Linked DNA regions of Homo sapiens. The protein of the gene in region 1 interacts with the protein of each later gene in a pairwise test. Each region holds a gene or a part of one and is shown on either strand. Other genes may lie near its edges.

What was found. The genes of interacting proteins can lie anywhere in the genome.
Region 2: the proteins of BRME1 (region 1) and RABL6 interact in a two-hybrid assay, tested with the Homo sapiens proteins (one large-scale study listed by BioGRID and IntAct).

What each region holds. Positions count from the first base shown.
Region 1 is NC_000019.10:13,882,118-13,885,617, forward strand, and holds the end of BRME1 (break repair meiotic recombinase recruitment factor 1), read right to left. Parts: intron 3,378-3,500; coding exon of another isoform or gene 3,002-3,377; exon of another isoform or gene 2,386-3,001; intron 1,284-2,385; coding exon 1,191-1,283; intron 836-1,190; coding exon 685-835; 3' UTR 231-684; downstream 1-230. UniProt on the Homo sapiens protein: Meiotic recombination factor component of recombination bridges involved in meiotic double-strand break repair.
Region 2 is NC_000009.12:136,838,948-136,841,687, reverse strand, and holds the end of RABL6 (rab-like protein 6), read right to left. Parts: coding exon 2,567-2,740; intron 2,467-2,566; coding exon 2,202-2,466; intron 1,995-2,201; coding exon 1,823-1,994; intron 1,535-1,822; coding exon 1,476-1,534; intron 1,367-1,475; coding exon 1,166-1,366; 3' UTR 501-1,165; downstream 1-500. UniProt on the Homo sapiens protein: May enhance cellular proliferation. May reduce growth inhibitory activity of CDKN2A.

The DNA of each region.
Region 1 (3,500 bases):
TGCAGCTGGATGATCGCCCAGGGCGTCTCTTAGGCTTCGACCCGCGTGTATGCTCAAGAGCCTGCACACAGATGTGGGCACACAGTCACCCACCCCTGGAGATTCGCCCCCCCCTTGCTTTCCCAGGGAAGCTGAGGCATAAAACTCGTAGAGGGCGAGGAGGAGGAAGTGGGTAGAGAGGTTTGTGGGCGGAAGGTGAAGGAACTGAAGCCTCAGCCCCAAACAGCAGGTCACGGGGCCTCTACAGAATCATTTATTATGGGTCTTCCCAGAAGAAATAAAATGGAAATGGGGAGAAAGAAAACAAAGGGAGCTCTCTTCTCCTCCAGGAAAGAAACAAATTCTGAACCATCCATACTTGGCTCAGGACCCTAAAATTTGCAAATCCGGACAGGATGGGCCCTGCTCAGAGGTGGCCAGCTTCCTGGAGCCCAGGCCCGCTTGAAGTCACTGGGGCTGTGGGAGACACAGTTTCCCTCCCTGAAGCCAAGGGTGGCAAATGACCTTGACCCTGGCCAGGTGAGGCCAGGACCTCACGGCCTCCTTTGTGTTGTCCATGGAAGACCAACTTCCGGGCAACTGAAGGGAGGTTTGTAGGGTCCACTAGGACCCCCTGGAGCATCTTGGAGGAGGTCTGCGGACATGGGGGCTGGGTGGCAAAGGAAACACAGACCTCAAAGTGGCCTACAACTCCCTCCAGGGTGGGTCCCCTCGAGGGATATTCCCAGGCCCCTTGGAAGGGTAAGGCAGGGGGGCTTTGCCTCCCAGCTTTGTCTTCCGGTAGTTAAGGCGCTTGAAAGCTTCCAGGTCCCGGTGGGTGCCCATGATCAGCCGGCTGTGGGGGAAACACAGGCATGCGTGTGGGGCTCAGTGGTCACCAGGTGACAGAGGGGGCCGCGCCTCACAGCCACATGGTCACCAATGACTCAGGTGCACACACACGGCTCACACACGTGCACATAACCAGAAAGGGCCTGTTGTAGCACAGGCTGGGCCTGTTGCAGCCTTTCTTCAGAGCCTGTGTTCTGCAAAGGACGGGGGAGGGGGGCCACGGTGAGGACCCAGCAGCAGTGAGGTGCCTGACCCTCGCTGCCCACCTAGGGGCTTCACACTTCAGTCCCTCCCTGCTCCTCTGAGTCCCCACTGGCCTCCCGCAGACCCTGTGCCGTGAGTCCAAGCCCACCCCGTACTTCAGGTTGGAGAGCTCAACGATGAGGCCACGCACGACGTTGGTGGCATCCTCCATCCTGGAGGCCTCAGAGGCCTGGATCCCCACGAAGGTCCTGGCCAGCAGGGAAGGAAATTGAGAGTGGCCCGACCTCACTGGACTACCAGAGCTCTCCAGTGGGAGGGGCTTCCGCAGGGCCTCGCGCCATCTTTTCCAGGTGTCCAGCCTGTCCTCCTCTGTTCACGACAGAACCCTGATGGCCAACCCAGCTGGCTCCACTGCCCAGCAGGCCCAGAACCCAACCGCTTCTCCCCTACCTGCCCTGCCCTCTCAGGACGCTGCTGCCACCGCCTCCCTATCTCCTGCCCCTGTGGCTTGTCCCCCACAGGCACTGGGGGCTGTGAACTTGGAAACCTAGCTCAGAGGCAAGCCCTCTCCTCCCGCAGCTGTGCACCACCTGCCTGCCCCGTGCCCTCCCCTCATCCCCCGCTTCTCCCCTCCCCTCGGCTCTAGCCACACTAGACTCCTGGCCATTCCTTGAGCACCTCTCAGGATTCTGGAATGTTCTTTCCCAAATGTCTCCTCCTGGTGGTGGCTTCCCTGATTCCTCCTTACATTTTAACCCCTTCTCCGCTGCCTTTTTTTCCCCAACACTCTGCCATCTGACTATCTAATCTGCTGTCTCTCATGTCCCCACACCCCGAATCCCCCAGTAGCATTCAACTCTGTGTTTTGTCCCACACTGCCTCCCCAGCACCCAGGGCAGTGCTAGAAAGGCCAGCCCAGATGGCATTCATATCCTTGGAAGGTTTGGGAGGTCAAGGTGGGAGGATGGCTTGAACCCAGGAATTCAAGACCAGCCTCGGCAATGTAGTGAGACCCCCATCTCTACAAATAATACAAAATTAGCCAGGCATAGTGGTGCGCGCCTGTAGTCCCAGCTACTCAGGAGGATGAAGTGGGAGGATCAGTTGAGCCTGGGAGATGGAGGCTACAGTAAGCTATGATCCTGTACACCAGCCTGGGCAACAGAGCAAGACTCTATCTAAAAAATATCCCGCCAGGCACGATGGCTCATGCCTGTAATCCCACCACTTTGTGAGGCTGAGGCAGGTGGATTACTTGAATCCAGGAGTTTGAGACCAGCCTGGGCAACACGGCAAAATCCCATCTCTAAAAAAAAATATACAAAATTAGCCGGGTGTGGTGGCGGGTACCTGTAATCCCAGCTACTTAGGGGGCTGAAGTGGGAGAATCATGCGAGCCTGGGAGATCGAGGCTGCAGTGAGCTGAGGTTGCACCACTGCACTCCAGCCTGGGTGATGGGAGTAAGACTGTGTCTCAAAAAAAAAAAAAAAATCACGGAAGAGCCAAGGAGCCACAGAACACCTCCCCCACCCCACAGAACAGGTGCCACTCTCAGACACAGGCAGTACAGGTGGCCAGGCGGGTAAGTGGGGGCCACCCGCCCTAAACCCGCCCATGCCCCAGGCTTCGCAGCACCTCCGGGGCTGTCACTATGGAAACTGCTGTCCTGCTGCTCCTGCCTTGGTCACCCTGAGGTGTCTGGCAGCCCCTGGGTCTTAGCCTCTTGTGTGTGTCATTCAGCCTCAAGCCACCAAACCAGACCCGGGGCCCTCTGGGAGCTTCCAGACATCCAGGACGGTGGGGAGGGGAGCTGCATTGGCCCTGGGACGCTGTCGGAGATTCAGATGTGAACCCTCCCGGCTCTTCACTCAAACCACAGCGGGCCGCTCTGATGAACTGCCTCTGGTCCACGTGCAGGTTGTGTGTGTGGCTAAGGGAGGTGGCCAGTGGCACAGCAGGTACAAGTCACAGGGAGTGACGGCAGGAGGCAGGGACAGAGCCGCCCTCTGCTAGGGGAGGAGAAGGAGGAGGAGGGTGTGGGGGCCACACACAGCCAAGGGCTGAGTCCCAAACCCTCCTCCACCCCTGCCAGACAGAAACAGAAACTTGGCCATAAATAATTGATAAGCTGCCGCCTCTGCAGAGAGGCAGGTTCAAGTGCCAGGTAACAGAGAGGGCAGCCACCCAGCGCTGGCTTCGAGGAGGGCTGTGGGAGGGCACGGGAGGAGGGGACAGGCTGCGGAGACCCCGGGCATGGTGCGGGGGAGAGGGTGCCCTCCTCACACACAGCAGGCTGGAGGACGGCTCACTGGTGGCCTGTGGGAGGGAGGAGGTGGTTCGCCTAGGGCAAGAGCCAAGTGGGGAGGGGAGGAGGTGAGGGCAGGTTAGACTCACTCGGGTGCCCGCCTGGTGCCAGAGCTAGGAACAGCTCCAAGATGGTCTCAGCCAACAGTTCTGAGCCCTG
Region 2 (2,740 bases), on another chromosome or scaffold:
ACCTCATGGGCTGTGGGCTAAGGGGCCAGGCTAAGCTTGCTGTGGGCCACAGCACCTGCTCAGGGACTGCAGTGACTGCCCAACACCCTGGGGCCACAAGGCTCCCAGGCAGAGGAGCCTCCAGCTTGGCCACCTCCTCCCCTTCACTGGCACACTCTTCCTGCCTGCCCTGCAGGGTTCTCATGGCAACAGTAGCTGTGGGGGTGGAGGCTGGGCGCTGCTGACAGCTGGAGGGGGCAGGAGCCTGAAGGCGGGGGGCAGGGCTGCAGGCGGCTGCCTGGGAGCCTTGCAGAGTGGACTTCCACCTCCTGGGGCTGAGGTCGCCAAGCGTGCTGCGTGCAGCTGCTGAGCCCTGGCACAGGTGGGCTGGAATGTACCCAGGGTGTGGCCAGACTTGGTGGGACGTCCTCACACCACTGCTGGGCAGCCTCCTGCCAACCCACGGCAGCCTGGGCCCGGGGCAGCGGGAGCAGAGGTACAGGCAGAAGAACAGACACACGCAGAGTGAAACAGGAGTGCTTTATGGTCTGAGTGGAGTGTTTGGGAGGAGTGCCTCCCGGCTCCTGCCTTCGGGCTCACCTGAGCGGGGGCGCAGCTGAGGCCACTGTGGGAAACACAACCCCCACTCCCAGGAGAGGCCTCACATGCTGCCTTCGGTCTCGCCAGCCTTCTAGCGTGGGGCCTGGGCCGCCCTTTAGGGTGAGTCTGCACACCCGTGTTCAGGGCTCCCGGCCGGAAGCGGAACCATAGGCATGCTGCGGCCCCAGATGAGCGCGGAGGGCAAGCAGGTGCCGGGGCAGCGCACACCCCACAGCCAAGCGGCCCCTGCCCAGCCTCTGTAAACAGACCCTCACAGGTCCCTCCTGGGCCTCAGTCACATCCCTGAGAAACACTGGCGGCTCTGCCCCGAGAGGGCCAGGGTGTCCACCGAGCCTGGCTGAAGCCAGCTGTCCCCTCCCTTCTTGCAGAGCAGGCTCACACTGGGCCTGAAGGCCCAGCACCTGCAGGGCCCAGCCTGGGGACCACCAATGCCCGGCCTCTTCCAGCTCAGAAGCGCACACGGCAGCCACGGGGCAGCGGCAAAGGCGATGGTACAGAGGCAAATGCCTCCCCAGGCAGTGACAGGCACGCCCCCCGCCCCAGGGCGGCCACTGCCCACGCCGGCCTAGAGCTCCTCGTAGTCGCCACCCCCAGGGTGGCGGCCGCCCGGGGCCCCGCCCCCCAGGAAAGCCTCCAGCTCATCGGCAGCCGTCCTCTCCCTGCTGCGCGGGGGCCGCTGCTGCCGCCGTCGCCGCTCCTCCTTGCCCTCCTCCTTGTCCTTGCTCTTCTTGTGTTTGCTCTTCTTCTTGGCAGCTTTTTCTTCTTCCTGAGGAGCACAAGGATGGGGCGCCATGGAGTCACAGGAAGCCACAGCCCTGGTCCCAGGACCGCATGCCACCCAGTCCTGGCCTGCCAGGAAGGGGAGTAGCCAGTACCTCTTTGCCTTTTTTCTTCTTCTTCTTCTTCTCCTTAGAGGGGGTTTTGCCCTCCTTACCTGCACAGACAGGACAGACAGTGGCTCAAACTCAGGCCAACGGGGACCCCAAGCTGGGTGACAGGACTTCTCTAGAAACTCACAAAGCAGCGAGCCCCAGCCCTCCAGGAGGCCCTGCTGATGGACAGGACCACACTGCAAACATCAGCTCCTGCAGGGGGCTGCCAGGAGCATGGCACAGCATCCTGGACTCAGGAGAGGACCCCGGCCAGCGGCCAGCAGCTGGGAGGAGGCCCACGTTCTACCCAAACTCCAGCAGGCTGACCGCACTCTGGTGCCCCCACCCACCTTCCTCACTGCTCTCCTTGGGTCCGGCCTCCTCCAGCCCCAGCCCGAAGAGGTCCGAGTCATTCTTCAGTCTGAAGGCGGGGAGAGGGAGCTTGGGGGGTGGGGGCGGCTCGGCAGGGCCCTCATCCTCGTCAGTCACATCGGAGGGGTCATCTCGCACGGGAAAGTCATCCTGGAGCAGGGAGAGCAACTGGTCAGGCCATCATCCCTCCCACACCCCCAGGGGTTGTGGGATCTCAAACCAGGCCGGCAAGGCCCAAGTGTGGGGACATGAGATGCCTCTTCCAGAAGCCTCCTCCCACTGCACCCACCCAGATCAGGCCTGTGGGAGGGACCCTGGCCACCTGGCTGACCTCTGCCCCGGGAGGACTCGTCTTACCGCCCTGCGCTGTGTGTCTGATCCCTCGCTCTCAAAGTCGGGGTCATCCATGACGAAGGACAGCATTTGTGCAGCAATGGGTCCCTCGGGGTCACTCTCCGACGAGGAGGCCTGCTCACCCTTCCCCGGCTCCATCTCAGCAGGGGGCCTGGTGCTGCTGCGCTTCTCCGGACCTGTGCGAACAGAGACACCGCCTGGCCAGGGGGGTGCTGCGGTCCTCGTGGGAGCTGTCCCCCTCCGTGGCTTCGAAGCTGGTATGGAGGACCTTTGTGGACAAGCAGAGGGTCAGTCAGGGTCCTCTGGAGGCGTCCTGAACTGCCCCACCCGGGTCTCCAGGCCGCACCCGTGGGGACACCTGCCCTTACCACTTGGTCTCTGGCTCTGAGCACTGCTGGGGAGCTGGGGCAGGGCCTTTTGTGGGAGCTGCCACTTCTGCTTCCTCCTCACTCGAAAGAGTGATGTCTTGACTGGGGACGGGGCCTGCAGGCAGCGGGGGACTCCCACGTGGCTGGTCTTCGAGGTCCACATCGTCCTGGAAC